Linked DNA regions of Homo sapiens. The protein of the gene in region 1 purifies or fractionates together with the protein of each later gene. This does not show direct contact. Each region holds a gene or a part of one and is shown on either strand. Other genes may lie near its edges.

What was found.
Region 2: the proteins of CUL2 (region 1) and ANKRD39 purify together in Homo sapiens (affinity purification with mass spectrometry; 2 studies listed by BioGRID and IntAct, with this or other methods). This does not show direct contact.
Region 3: the proteins of CUL2 (region 1) and TRIM44 purify together in Homo sapiens (affinity purification with mass spectrometry; 3 studies listed by BioGRID and IntAct, with this or other methods). This does not show direct contact.
Region 4: the proteins of CUL2 (region 1) and CSTA purify together in Homo sapiens (affinity purification with mass spectrometry; 2 studies listed by BioGRID and IntAct, with this or other methods). This does not show direct contact.

What each region holds. Positions count from the first base shown.
Region 1 is NC_000010.11:35,031,342-35,034,841, forward strand, and holds part of CUL2 (cullin-2), read right to left. Parts: intron 1,933-3,500; coding exon 1,825-1,932; intron 1,154-1,824; coding exon 1,094-1,153; intron 279-1,093; coding exon 150-278; intron 46-149; coding exon 1-45.
Region 2 is NC_000002.12:96,855,217-96,859,265, reverse strand, and holds the start of ANKRD39 (ankyrin repeat domain-containing protein 39), read left to right. Parts: upstream 1-1,249; 5' UTR 1,250-1,278; coding exon 1,279-1,378; intron 1,379-4,049.
Region 3 is NC_000011.10:35,725,275-35,728,774, reverse strand, and holds part of TRIM44 (tripartite motif-containing protein 44), read right to left. Parts: intron 2,852-3,500; coding exon 2,612-2,851; intron 1-2,611. UniProt on the Homo sapiens protein: May play a role in the process of differentiation and maturation of neuronal cells. May regulate the activity of TRIM17. Is a negative regulator of PAX6 expression.
Region 4 is NC_000003.12:122,328,248-122,331,747, reverse strand, and holds part of CSTA (cystatin-A), read right to left. Parts: intron 1-3,500. UniProt on the Homo sapiens protein: This is an intracellular thiol proteinase inhibitor. Has an important role in desmosome-mediated cell-cell adhesion in the lower levels of the epidermis.

The DNA of each region.
Region 1 (3,500 bases):
GGATAACCCATGAATTAAACGTTTTGCCAGCATTCTTGCGTAGAACTACATTTAAAAATATTTTAAAAGATTACTTCCTTTCTAATGATTTAGCATTCAGAAATAAAGTTGACCAAAATACAAATGAAACTTTTCTGTTCACAACATACCTTTTGAAAGACGTCCTTGTCATCAATGTATTTGAACACTGTGATGAAGCTCGTGAGCCTGTCTTCCACTTCATTCTCTGTCATCCCTTTCGCTGACTTCTTCAGTAAGTTGTCACAGTACTTAGCAAGCTCATGTAGAAATTGATAATAAATCTTACAAAGGGTGCTTCTGTATATATCACGCCTCAAAGGAGGCAAAGTGGTGATACAAGGTAAGATCAGCGGACAGAATTTTTGCTGTTTTTTTTAGAGACCGGGTCTTGCTCTGTTGCCAGGCTGGATTGCAGTGGACAAGATCATAGCTCACTGCAGCCTCAAACTCCTAGGCTCAAAGGATCCTCCTGCCTCAGCCTCCCAAGTAGTTGGGACTACAGGCATGCACAACCACACCAGGCTTCTAAAGCTTTATGTAATAATCATAAATGTAAACTAAATAAAATATACATCATAAGGTAAATTTTTAAAAAGAACAAGTCAAATATCAAATCATCACTTATTGACCAATAAAGCAACTGATATAAGTAATACAAATTTTTAAAAGAACACCTAGGTGAGTTTCGAGTGGTTTTATAATTTTTGACATTGAACAAGTACTTTAAAAAAAAGTTACAAAAATCTTGTAAGCAAGTTTCCTTCAAAGGTTACCCAAACTTTATCATCAGATTTCCTTTAGATTTCAGATGTAACAGAATCTACATGAAAAGTATTGCAAATTATTTCAAAGTAGATATACATTAAAACCCAAACTTTGTAAAATGGTTATTCTTTAAGACACATAGTATATTGCATTCCTTACATAAATGCCAAACTATATACAATGTAGATAATTTTCCTTCTATTTTTCTGAAAAATGCTACAAAAACCAAATTAATTTGATATTCTGAGTTCTCATTTTCTAATACTGACTTTTCATAAGATTACTTTTCAGCAACCACCAAACTTACCAGTTCAGGTGCTTTGCAAACAGACTTAGGTTCTCTGTAATTTACAACTGACGTAAGGGCCTGAATAAAAAAACACGCCATAATTAACCACCAGCCATAGGGAAAAAGTACAGCTAGTTCAATATAAGCCATAATCTGTACATCCAAAAATTACCCCGCCACATAAAACACAGCATTGCCGGTAGTTTGTTAATATTTTCATGCCTAACATGGTAGACTCCTCTGACTTTATTCTCTAATTACAAAATATCTATATATCCTGTTGCTATTCCAAGATATTCTGTAACTCATTATCGAAATTTGAACAGATAAAATAACGTTACTTAAAAAAAAACTTACAATCTTGTAAGCAGCTTTCCTTTAACGTATGCAAAAGTTCATGTAAAACATATCTATTCTCTTTTCAAATATTATTCAATATAGCCTAAGTATTATGGCCAAAGAAAAAAAATCAGTACTAAAAATTGCAAAATTATGCATGTCTATCCAGAACATATCAGATTAAAAATTCCCCTTATATAGCATAATCACGGGACATTCTACAAGCATTCAATTTAACTATTCAGTTAATAATTTAAAAATTATATTATTTCTATTTTGAATTTCATATCAAAATTACTTAATCTCCATGTCTACATCAGAAACCTCATACTAGAATTCTGATCTTGAAACTGCCTAAAGAATGATAGAGTTTTATGTACATATATAGTATATATGTATTTAAAACTTACCTTATCCAACGCACTCATAAAATGCTGATCACCATTCAAAACAGTGTTGATAAGCTGAACAAATTTACCATGCACTTCCAAAACTGACTCCACAAATAGTGTTGGCATCTAAAAATGAAATATAAGTACAAAACCACATTTTAAGAGGTTCAAGGATATCCAAACTATGAGGTTTATTAGACTTATTAGTAAATTTTTCCTCAAGGAAATTATGTTTCACACATGCACACTTCTCAGAAAATGGTTTTAGCTAAGACGGTCTTAGAAATTTACAACTTTGGTGTTGAAGGCTGGGCACAGTGGCTCACACCTGTAATCCCAGCACTTCTGGGAGGCTGAGGCGGGCGGATCATGAGGTCAGGAGATCGAGACCATCCTGGCCAACACGGTGAAACCCCGTCTCTACTAAAAATACAAAAAAATTAGCCAGACGTGGTGGCGTCCACCTGTAATCCCAGCTACACGGGAGGCTGAGGCAGGGGAACTGCTGGAACCAGGGAGGTGGAGGTTGCAGTGAGCAGAGATCGCACCACTGCACTCCAGCTTGGGCGACAGAGTGAGACTCCGTCTCAGAAAAACAACAACAACAACAAAAAAAAAAAAAAAGGAAGAAAGAAAATAGCTTGTCATTCAACACAACAAGCTGTCATAGACTGTCTAGTACCTGTCAGAAGAACCCACCAAAAGCATACTTTTCTACTGTGTTGGAATAACTTATCTTAAGGATAACAAGACCTGAACTACCAGGTCTATCACTTTCATAGAGGCTTAAATAAGCAAAGACTGCCTGCAAAGTCACTAAAGGCTGAGAGAAAGGAGAGTTAAAAAGCCAATAATCCTGAGAACAGAGACCCCTTGAACTCGGCAAGACAATCCCTCACATCTCAGAGAGAAGAAATACCTAATAGTACAAAAGTGAGTTTTCCCTCTTAATGGAGATAACCATGAAGAAGTTACTACCTAAGACTTAACTAAGTCAGTTGGATTTGAGTCTACCACAAATGTATTCACTTATGTTTCCATCTCCCAGCCTTGACACAAAATTCGATGCTTCTATGCCCAATGTCATTGGACATGGAATCTATAAACGTAATAATGTAAACTAGTAAGTTTGACAAATAATAGAGTAATAAACCTGAATACTATAAACTAATAGTTCTACAAAAAATAGAAAACTGTGGTAAAGGGAATTTGAAGAAATAAAAAAATAGAAAACTTACACATTATTGTGGCATAACATAAAAACTAAAAATTATTACTTGCCAAAAACCAATCTGCAGCTAAGGTAACAGCCTCTAAAAAGTGCTCCTGAACAGTGACGTCTATACACAGATACTATCTTATAGATGAAGGGCAAACAGCTCTACTTAAGAAGAGACAGTAACATTTGAAGTTATTTCTCTCTTGCTCATCAAACATTACCAGTAATAACAAGATTTGGTGATGGGAAAGACAAACTGTTACAGTACAAACTGTTACAGTCATGTGATTGGCAAAGTATTCGAGAAAGATGAGTATTAGGGATATGAGGGTTATTGTTTTGGGTATTTGGGGCAGCAAGCATATACTTACAGAAGATTATTTTAATCTAAATTTGCTTCCTGGACAACCAAATTCAGAGGATATGGAAAGGAGGCAAATTGCAAGTCGTCTATATTACCACTGATTAATACTAC
Region 2 (4,049 bases), on another chromosome or scaffold:
AACTAGCGGGGGAAGGAACTTACATCCAGTGTGCACCAGACCACTGTCCTGGAGAGGGACTGGCACAGAACCCAACCTGCATTCTGTCGTTCATGCACTCTTTCTAAGCCGATCAGGCGGTCTCCCCTGTACACTTGATCGTGGCTTGAGCAGGCAGCTGCCTGGGTTTTAACTGGGAATTGAGAAGGCTGGGGTCCGCTGAGGAGCACGCTGCGAAGGTGCGCGGTCCGCAGACGGCCTCCCGGTGGGTTTTGATCATGAAGACCGATTCCGTAAACTCAGCGCCCACTGTGGGGCCAGGGGGTTCTGCACAAACCAAGGCCCTGCCCCTGCCCTGAGGTGGAGCTACAGGCAGGACAAGTTGTGGCCACCTGCCCCTTGCTGGACTTGTAAGGAAGAGCAGGGTACGGGGAGGGGCGTCTCGAGGCCTTTCCAGCCGTCACTTTGCCGCTGCCCCGGGGGCGGTCGGCCTTGGTCCGGGGTGGTGCCAGGAAGAGGGGCTAAAAACCGTGGAGCGCGCCCCGGCCCGATGGCTCACGCCTGTAATCCCAGCACTTTGGGAGGCCAAGGTGAGCGGATCACGAGGTCAAGAGATCGAGACCATCCTGGCGAAACCCCGTCTCTACTAAAAAATACAAAAAATTAGCCGGGCGTGGTGGCGGGCGCCTGTAGTCCCAGCTACTCAGGAGTCTGACGCAGGAGAATCGCTTGAACCCGGGAGGCGGAGGTTGCAGTGAGCCGAGATCGCGCCACTGCACACAAGTCTGGGTGACAGCGAGACTCCGTCTCAAAAAAAAAAAAAAAAAAAAAAAAGACCGCGGAGCGCGTGGCGCCTCCCTGCCCTAGGGACTAGGGGCGGTAAAGAGAGGAGGCTGCGAGGTCGCTGGACGGCTGGGTCATGGCGAAGGTAACGGGAAAGCTCCCGACCGGACCCAGCTGCCTCATCCCCACACCCTGCAAGGCCAGGCGGCCCGGCGGCCCTCCAGCGGCGCGCGGCTCCCGGAACCCAGCGCCTCAGTCCTCGCTTGGCCTTGGACGCCCTCGCGCGGAGGCCTCGGGGCACGGCCGGGCGCAACAAGCCCCGCCCTACCGTTGCAATTGGTTCTCGAGCTAAGGCCTAGGCGTTTGATTGGTCAGCTTTGGCGAGAAGGCGGGACTAGGGCGACAGCCGCGGACGCCGAGCGGCCAGATCAGGGACGCGGGGCGGGCCCTGCGTCCGCCCCTCCCGCCGAGGCTGAGCCTGAGACCCGGGGCGGATCGACTGACGCCGGGGCCGGGATGGCGACGCCTCGGCCCTGCGCGGACGGGCCCTGCTGCTCGCATCCCAGCGCGGTGCTCGGCGTACAGCAGACGCTGGAGGAGATGGACTTCGAGAGGGGTGAGGCTGCCGCGCGGCCCTCGTGGTTCTCACCAGGCCCCGGCCCAAGGAGGAGGCGTGGGGCCAAGGAGAGGCGGATGAACGGGGCCCCGAGAGCTTGGGGCTTGGGGCTTGGGGCCTGGTGCGGGAAGGCGGGCGGGACCCACGGTTCCCGTGTACTGAGAGCCTCCCAGGGCCCCGCACGAGCTCGGCCAGGAGACACCTGTCCCGCGGGCGGCGGGGAAGCGGAAGCACTGGTTTCCGTAACCCTCCCGAGTAGCGGGGGACGACCTCCCCTGGGAGACACAAGCCTGCTCAGGTGTTTGAGAGAGGGCCCGGGGAGCAGAATCTGCACCAGGGGCATTGCACCCAACCTGAGGGGCATGGAGCTGCAGGCCTGGGGGCTGCGCGGTGAAGGAGAGCAGTGGCCTTTGTTTAGCCCCGGGTGCCAGGCAGCCTGCATGCTTTAAAGATGGCAAGAGCTTCGCACGGGCAGCCTTCGAGGCAGGGCACAGTATCTCATCTGTGGGACCCAGAGAGGTAACACGTTTGGCCCAGATTATACAGAGATTATGGTGCCAATAGGAACAGAGGAAGGCGGGAAACCAGGGTGCTTCTTGTGAGCGTTGGGAACCACTGTGCTGTGTCATCTGCCCTTGCGGATGCAGCCCTCGATTGCCACTGCTGTGTAAGCATTCTCATGGAACTCTTCCTTTACCGTGGTTCTGGCACCTGCCTACTTCCCTCCGCCCCTCCTACCGCTGTCCTCTGCACTGCTGAAGTGGTTGCCTCAGAGGGTCTTTCTGCTTCCACGCTTGCCTTCCTACAGGGTTTTCTACTCTCACATAGCAGCCAGAGCGGCTTTTTGAAAATTAGAAATCACATCATTCCCTGTTATGGCCTACAAAGCTCTGTAGACCCACCCCTGCCGGTTCTACTTCTCCTCCTCATTTTATTTCTCATGCTTTTCTTCCCCCAATCACTACGCCGCAGCCACACTGGTCTTGTTTTGGTGTCTCAAATATGCAAGACCTTTTCCTGAGTTAAGGCCGTTGGACTTGCTGTCCCATCTCCTTAGAATGAACTTCCTACAACCGTTAAGCTAGCTGATGCTTTTCTTCAGATCCCAGCTCCAATGTCATCTCCTCAGAGACCCTCCCTAAACACCCCAGTTCTCAACTGGGGGCAGTTCTGCCCTTTAAGGGACTTTGAATATCTGGAGACATTTTGGGTTGTCACAATCAGGAGGGTGCTACAGGCGTGTAGTAGGTAGAGATGAGAGATGCTGTATACATGGTACAATGCACAGGACAGCTCGCTACAATAATCATCCGGCCCGTAAGTGTCAATTGTGCTGTTAAGAAGTAAACATTGCCTTATCCAAAGTTAGGCCAGTTACTCTGATGTATCCATCATCTTGCTTTTTTTTTTTTTTTTTTTGAGATGGAGTCTCCCTCTTTTGTCCAGGCTGGCGTGCAGTAGCGCAATCTCGGCTCACTGCAGCCTCCGCCTCCTGGGTTCAAGCGATTCTCCTATTCTCCTGAGTAGCTGAGATTACAGGCGTGTGCCACGACGCCCGGCTAGTTTTTGTATTTTTAGTAGAGACCGGGGTTTCACCATATTGGTCAGGCTGATCTCGGAACTCCTGACCTCATGATCTGCCCGCTTTGACCTCCCAAAGTGCTAGGATTACAGGCGTGAGCCACCGCACCCGGCATCTTGCTTTCATAAAAAACAATTTTTACCGCAAACAATTTCCTCATTTTTTTGTGCAAACAAATACATTCTTTAAAACATTAATGGGAAGAGTGTATTTGATAAGCCAGTTTTAGCTACTGTTGTCACAAATAAAAGAAACTGTGAGATTTGTTAATCCGCTTCACTACAGTAACTCTTTGTTGTTGTTGTTGTTGTTTTGTTGTTGTTGTTGTTGTTGAGTCGGAGTCTGGCTCTGTCCCCAGGCTTTAGTGGCGCAATCTCGGCTCACTGCAAGCTCCACCTCCCAGGTTCACGCCATTCTCCTGCCTCAGCCTCCCAAGTAGCTGGGACTACAGGCGCCCGCCACCATGCCCGGCTAATTTTGTTTTGTATTTTTAGTAGAGATGAGGTTTCACCATGTTAGCCAGGATGGTCTTGATCTCCTGACCTCGTGATCCGCACAGTAATATATCTTTTTTTTTTTTTTTGAGACGGAGTCTCGCTCTGTCGCCCAGGCTGGAGTGCAGTGGTGCGATCTTGGCTCACGGCAACCTCTGCCTCCTGGGTTCACGCGATTCTTCTGCCTCAGCCCCCTGAGTAGCTGGGACTACAGGCGCGTGCCACCAAGCCCAGCTAATTTTTGTATTTTTAGTAGAGACGGGGTTTTACTCTGTTAGCCAGGATGGTCTCGATCTCCTGACCTCGTGATCCACCCGCCTCGGCCTCCCAAAGTGCTGGGATTACAGGCGTGAGCCACTGCGCCTGGCCAATATTTTTCTATTTATCATTTTGTACTACATTTTGGGTGAATTCCAAATCACTAATTCTCTTTGACTAGGTCTGCAGTACTCTTTGACCCATCTATTGTTGTTGTTTTGTTTCAATGAGTCTGTTTTTTAATTTATCAACTTTCCTGTTTCAGATCTGGCTGTTTTGTTTTTCCTAATGTTCTGTTGATTTGTGGATTCTATCCCTTTGTCTCTGTGAACACCTT
Region 3 (3,500 bases), on another chromosome or scaffold:
CCTTTCAACTGTGGTGTATGTTTAAAAAATTTTATAATAAAATGTTGGAGGGAAGGTCTTATGGCTGAATTCAAAATGCAGGTGATTTTTGATAAATTCTATACCACAAAAAGAACATAATTCCTCTGATGACTGAAAGACAGGTACTAGATATTTGCTCTCACCAATAAGTTACCAGATTAACTGGAACAAGAGGCTATTAAATAATAACAGCTCTTTGTAAACACTCTAGTGGCTGAACGCTATCTCTGTTTTTAATAGCTCATTTTGTCTGTAGCCTGGTCCTTAAGCCTTGTCAGCTCTTGCATCCCTTTAAGAGTAATTCCATCAGAGTTAACAAGCATAGTACAGCTGAGGTGCTTAAAGGACAGCTAATGTCAGAGAAGGACTAAATTCATAGATTAAAATAAAAGAGAAGAATAAACCCCAAAATTAAACTTTTTTTTTTGAGATGGAGTTTCACTCTGTCTCCCAGGCTGGGGTGCAGTGGCTGCAATCTTGGCTCACTGCAACCTCCACCTCCTGGGTTCAAGCGATTCTTCTGCCTCAGCCTCCCAAGTAGCTGGGACTGCAGGTGCTCGCCACCATACCCAGCTAATTTTTCTATTTTTAGTACAGACAGGGTTTTGCCATGTTGGCCAGGGCAGGCTTAAACTCCTGACCTCAGGTGATCCTCCCACCTCGGCCTGCCAAAGTGCTGGGATTACAGGCGTGAGCCACCACGCCTAGCCAAAATTAAATTTTTATTTTTCAAAGAACAACCTAATCAACATAGGGAATAAATGAAGGGGTCGAACTTGATAGGAACTGTGGACAGAATTATGCTGTCGATCCCTTGAATTAACTCTGGTTGAACCTTTTGTTTATTAAGACACAAACTGACCATCTTGACATTGTAAAGGTATGCAAAGCTGTCTAGAACATGGATTCTTCTCATTTTCCCACAGATACAGATGGGATGCTTAGCATATGTCTTATAGTAGGGGGAAAGCACAGGCACTGAAATAGCACAGACTTAAATCTAAACCCTGGCTCTATTTTCTACTGACTAAATGATATTGGGTCAGTATCTCTGCAGTTCTCTGTATCTCAAATATCCCATTTGTAAAATGGAGTTAATGCTGACGTAAGGATTAAATGAAATGATGAATATAAAGTGCTCTCTTGCCTATCTAGAAACTTATGTAGGCACATAATTTCTCAATTATGGGGAGAATAAAATGAAAAGAAGAAGAGTTATTCTTTTCACACATTGATGAAAATTAATCAAAAGCCCTGGATGGGTATAGCAGATACCTTTCAATGGTTTCTTACATTTCCTGTCAGGATAGCTTGGAAATACCTGCCTCCTGGATTACTTTGGCTCTTCTACTGGCCAGTTTATTCTGTGGCCAGGCTCTCTCAAGCCAAGGCAGGACGTCCAGTTAAGGATGGACTTGCTGAGTCAGCAACAGTCCTAGAAAGTCCACAGGACTCTCCTATGTTTTTTTTCTAGAAGGACCTACCCTAAACCTATCTGGCATTACCTTCACTAGAATTGTCAAATTATGAAATCTGATTAATAGTAGCCTCTCTCTAGTGGCTGAAATATAAGTTTTTTGGTTTTTTTTTTTTTTTGAGACAGGATCTCACTCTGTCACACAGGGTGGAGTGCAATGGCACAATCACAGCTCACTGCAGCCTCAACCTCCGGGGCTCAAGTAATCTTCCTACCTCTCCTGAATAGCTGGGACTACAGGCAGGTGAGACCATGTCTGCTACTTTTTTATTTTTTTTTTGTAGACACAGGGTCTCACTATGTTGCCCAGGCTGGTCTCAAACTCCTGGACTCAAGCAATCCTTCCACCCTAGCCTCCCAAAGTGCTGGGATTACAGGCGTGAGCCACTGAGCCCAGCTTGTACTTTTTTTTTTTAATGGCTACCTTAAATAATTTTTTCAAAGTAGATTCAAAATGCCTAAATATGTTGTTTGGTAAAATGCCTAAGACCCTTTTATTCCCGTTAAAAATAACAATGAATATGACAACTAACATTTGTATAGTGATTCAACATTTACCTTGTGTCTTTCATTCATAGTTTTTTTTTTTTTTTAATCTTACAATGCCCTAGTGCACATGCCATTCTTAATCCAGCAGTTATGCCTCCAATTTATGCAGCTGGCTCCATATAACAACCAGCTTGAGACACCTTTTCACTATGTACAAAGTAAGTCCAAAATCTTTCATTCTGGCCTGCTTTATGCTCTACTTCATGATTTGTTCTCATTCAGCCCAGGTCTATGATGACTTTAAAGGCTCATTTCACAACTTGGGGTCTGTCGCTTGCCCTCTTCTCTGGCTGTAATTTTTGGCTTCCTTTCTTAATTGTGATTAGTATCTGCCCCCACTGACTATACTCCTTAAAGTAATGATGGATAAATAATTTGGTAGGCCCAGCCACTGAGTAAACTAGTGGCCAATACTTCCATACTGGTTTATACACCATGTGAAACACTTATACTCTACCTAGACTTCAATTCATTCACGTTCAGGGACCACATGGGGTCTAACAAATATGGCATCAGTTTCCTCCTATTTCTCTTGCTACTAATAATTATGGGCTTTTCCTTTACCTCTGCCTTTGGCTCAGCTGATTCATTAGAGGTATCAAGTTGTTCCTTGGCTTGGGCCATCTGAGTCATCAACCTATCCATGTGGGATTGGATGTCTGCCAGTATCTCAGTCACATGAGCTGTGGCCATTGCCTCTTGGATGTCCACTAGATGAAGGGCCTTCTGCTCCTCATCAGCAATCACTTTCTGAACTTTCTTAAATTCCTGCTGTATAAACATCTTCATTTGGTCCCGAGTTACCTTTAGAACAGAGACAAATAAGAAGAATAAGTTGAACATACAAAGAAACAAAAGGGCAGAGTTATTACTATACAGCCCTGGCCAAAATACACACCATGGATCCTATCCAATCCTAAAGTTTTGGGAATATCCTAAAAACAATGTTCCCCTAATATCATTGATGAATTTCCTGCTAATCTTTTTGCCTTTTTCATTCTTCAGGGAGTAATTTCTTATCCTTTTTTCCTTTCGGTTTTGTTCATTTTTATACCAGTAATATATACGATGAATATATACAGTAAAAAATGAGGCCGGGCGTGGTGGCTCATGAATGTAATCCTAGCACTTTGGGAGGCCAAGGCGGCTGGATCACTTGAGGTCAGGAGTTCGAAACCAGCCTGGCCAACATGAGGAAACCCTGTCTCTACTAAAAATACAAAAAAACTTGCTGGGCATGGTGGTGGGTGCCTGTAATCCCAGCTACTTGGGAGGCTGAGGCAGGAGAATTGCTTGAACCAAGAAGGTGGAGGTTGCAGTGAGCCCAGATCGCACCACTGCACTCCACCCTGGGCAACAGAGCAAGTCTCCATCTCAAAACAAAACAAAAAACGAAATTCTTCCTCTCCGCCCCAATTACTGTTAATAGTTTGGTATGTATCCTCCCAGCCAT
Region 4 (3,500 bases), on another chromosome or scaffold:
GTTTCTAGAAAAAGACCAACAAATATGACTGCAAGAATGTTCTGGCAGCCCTGGGTCCTGTCCGGGTTGTTAAGCATTAATCCACAGGTTTGTAATGGTGAGTTTTCTGTGGTTCTGCACCTCGCTTTGGCAAAGTTCTTTGATTCTGGAACAGTAGTAGCTGCATAGAAAGTGGTGGCAGTGGGTGTGACCTTTAATTGAGAATTAGAATGTCAGGAGCTCCCAGGGTCAAGGAAATCATCATGAGTGGAGGAGTATTTGAAGCTACCCTCCTGTCATGGGGTCCAGGCTGGATGAGAGACTCAGTGGGCCTGGGCATGTTCTCATGAAGTTGGGAAGGTAGGTGCCTGAAGGATTCTGGTGTGGCTGAATGACAGGTTCTTTGGGTGTGGGACAGTGGGAGAGGCGACTAATAAGGAGGCTGTGGTCAGAGAGGGGAATGCAAATTTGTGGATGGGGTGAGAGCCATGACATGCTAAGTTCCAGGGTGTGCCCAGGATGGTATGCAGATGAAGTGTTTGTGCGGTGTCCTGACTGACAAAAATCATGTTCTGTGTGTTGGCCAGGAATAGTATTCAGCAATTAGGTTTATGACTAAGGGGAGTGTGTGTGTGTGTGTGTGTGTGTGTGTGTGTGTGTGTGTTTGTTGTGTGCATGCACATTGCATGTATAGTAGCCCTTACCTCTAAAAACAATTAAATAACATTTCTTTCCTTCTCATAAATATGCTCACAATTCTCATCAAAATGCTTATTAACATATTATATAAGATAATGGATCAGCAATAATGATCCGGAGGCTTTTGCTGTTGGGCCATTCATTTATTTGGTTCTTCGTTATACAGATTGTGGCTTTTCATGAATGGGCCTGTGTATGGCTCTGTCTTTCTGGATGTGTCCCTCTTAGCTCCATTCTATTTTATTAATTTCCCAAAGGGCAGGCACTATTTTATGTCCCTGCTACCCCCATAGCAATTCACACAGTTCTGTCTACCTAATCAATGTTTTCTGAATGAAAAGACCACAGTTGTTTTCCATCCTGACAACTTGTCTCCCCAAATAGGAAAGATGAGTATAGCAATGACATCAGCTAATACGGAGAATCTTGGAAGAGGGTTTTCTTCCAAGTGTACTTTAGTACATGGTGCTACAATGACATGTTCAGTCTCTGTTATCTTCAGAATGGGAAAACTCATTTCTCCTGCCTTCAAAAACATTCAAGTTTTCTCAATTGCCATCCCTTGTTTGCCTTTCTTTTCTTTCTGCCCTCATCCAATATTCCTCTTTCACTGTGATATCAAATTCCTTGGTCATGCAGTTATCATTTGTCTTTGACACTCTTCCCTTTTCTATGTGATGATCTTTTTCTTCCTTCTTTCTCTCCTTCTAATGGGGTTCTTCAGTTGGCCTTCCACTAAGAAGCTCTCTGAGAAGTCCAAGGAAAGCTGATAAACTTCAGCTCCTCTGAGAATACTTCCACTTTAACAGGTGATTTTAAAAAACAGAGATACATTCAAAAATAAAAAATAATAAAACTAGCAAGTAAGTGACAGGTAGTGGAGATTGTCCCTAAATTACTAGCATCTATCCATTTTCCCTATTCCTGCATGGGGACCTAACTGTAATTTTGGAGAAGGAATTGACTCAAGTTTCTCACCTATAAAGCGGTTATAATAATACCTGCCTCTTGGGGCTGTTTGTAGGGGCATAAATGATATAATTGACGTGAAAGTGCTTCCTAAACTACAAAGAGTTTTCCAACTCTTCCTCTACCTTCTAACACTGAATTGGAAATTGTGCCCTAAGGCTCACTCCTGCAAGAGAGGGCAGATAAGTGATAATTGGGGCTTTAACACCAGAGGAGCTGAACTGCCTCACAGTAATTATTCACCTGAAAGGAAGGAGGTTTGACCAGCAATCTCTAACATCTTTTCTGGTCCAAAACCTGTGATTATAAAAAAAGCACTTAATTGGATATTGTTTTATATTATGTTCCAGATATCTCGATTTTCCCAACTACCCTGTAAACTCCTAGAGGCCAGGGGCCATATCTTATAGACCTCATGTAGCTTCTATAATAATTAGCATAATGCTAGACACCTAGGAGATATACAAGAAATGCACCTACTATGAAATGATTCAGTGATATTCATTTCCTGTATTTATTTATTTATTTATTTTTTGAAACAGAGTCTCGCTTTGTTGGCCAGGCTGGAGTGCAGTGGCGTGATCATGGCTCACTGCATCCTCAACTTCCTGAGTGCAAGTGATTCTCTCACCTAAGCCTCCCAAGTAGCTGGGACTACAGGCGTGTACTACCTGGCTATTTTTTTGTATTTTGGAGGGGGTAGAGACAGGGTTTTGTCATGATGCCCTTGAACCACCCAGATCAAGCAATCTGCCCGCTTCTGCCTTCTAAAGTGCTGGGATTACAGCCGAGAGCCACCGCACCAGTCCTTCTAAGGAGTAAAAAATTTTATTTTGGCTGGGCGCGGTGGCTCACGCCTGTAATCCCAGCACTTTGGGAGGCCAAGGCGGGTGGATCATGAGGTCAGGAGATCGAGACCATCCTGGCTAACATGGTGAAACCCCGTCTCTACTAAAAAATACAAAAAATTAGCCAGGCATGGTGGCGGGCGCCTGTAGTCCCACCTACTCGGGGGGCTGAGGCAGGAGAATGGCGTGAACCCGGGAGGCGGAGCTTGCAGTGAGCCGAGACCGTGCCACCGCACTCCAGCCTGGGCGACAGAGCGAGATTCCGTCAAAAAAAAAATTAAATTTTAAATTTTTAATTTTTTTTTACTTTTTGAAATGGAGTCTCGCTCTGTCATCCAGGCTGGAGTGCAGTGGCACAGTCTCGGCTCACTCCAACCTCCACCTCCTGAGCTCAAGCAATTCTCCTGCCTCAGCCTCCTGAGTAGCTGGGACTACAGGCGCCCGTCACCACGCCCAGCTAATTTTCTAGTTTTAGTAGAAAACTAGAAAGTAGAAAGCTATGTTGGCCAGGCTGGTCTTGAACTCTTGACCTCAGGTGATCCGCCTGCCTTGGCCTCCTATATGGACTTAACTGTGAGGCTGGTGCTTCCACTGAGAAGACAAACTTACCACACTCTCTCCATTCAGTGTATTTCCGTTTCCTAACAAAGCTCCTCTGTGTTCTGCCACTGTGTGGTAGAGAGGGCAGGCAGTCAAACACTGGGGGTGAGCTAACTTCTTAACTAGGTGACTCTTTTTTTTTTTTTTTTTTTTGAGATGGAATCTTGTTCTGTGGCCCAGGCTGGAGTGCAATGTCATGATCTTGGCTCACTGTGGCCTCCGCCTCCCGGGTTCAAGTGATTCTCCTGCCTCAGCCTCTGGGTAGCTGGGATTACAGGCACCTGCCACCACGCCGGGCTAATTTTTGTATTTTTAGTAGAGACAGGGTTTCACCATGTTGGCCAGGCTGGTCTCGAACTCCTGACCTCATGTGATCTGCCCGCCTCAGCCTTCCAAAGTGCTGGG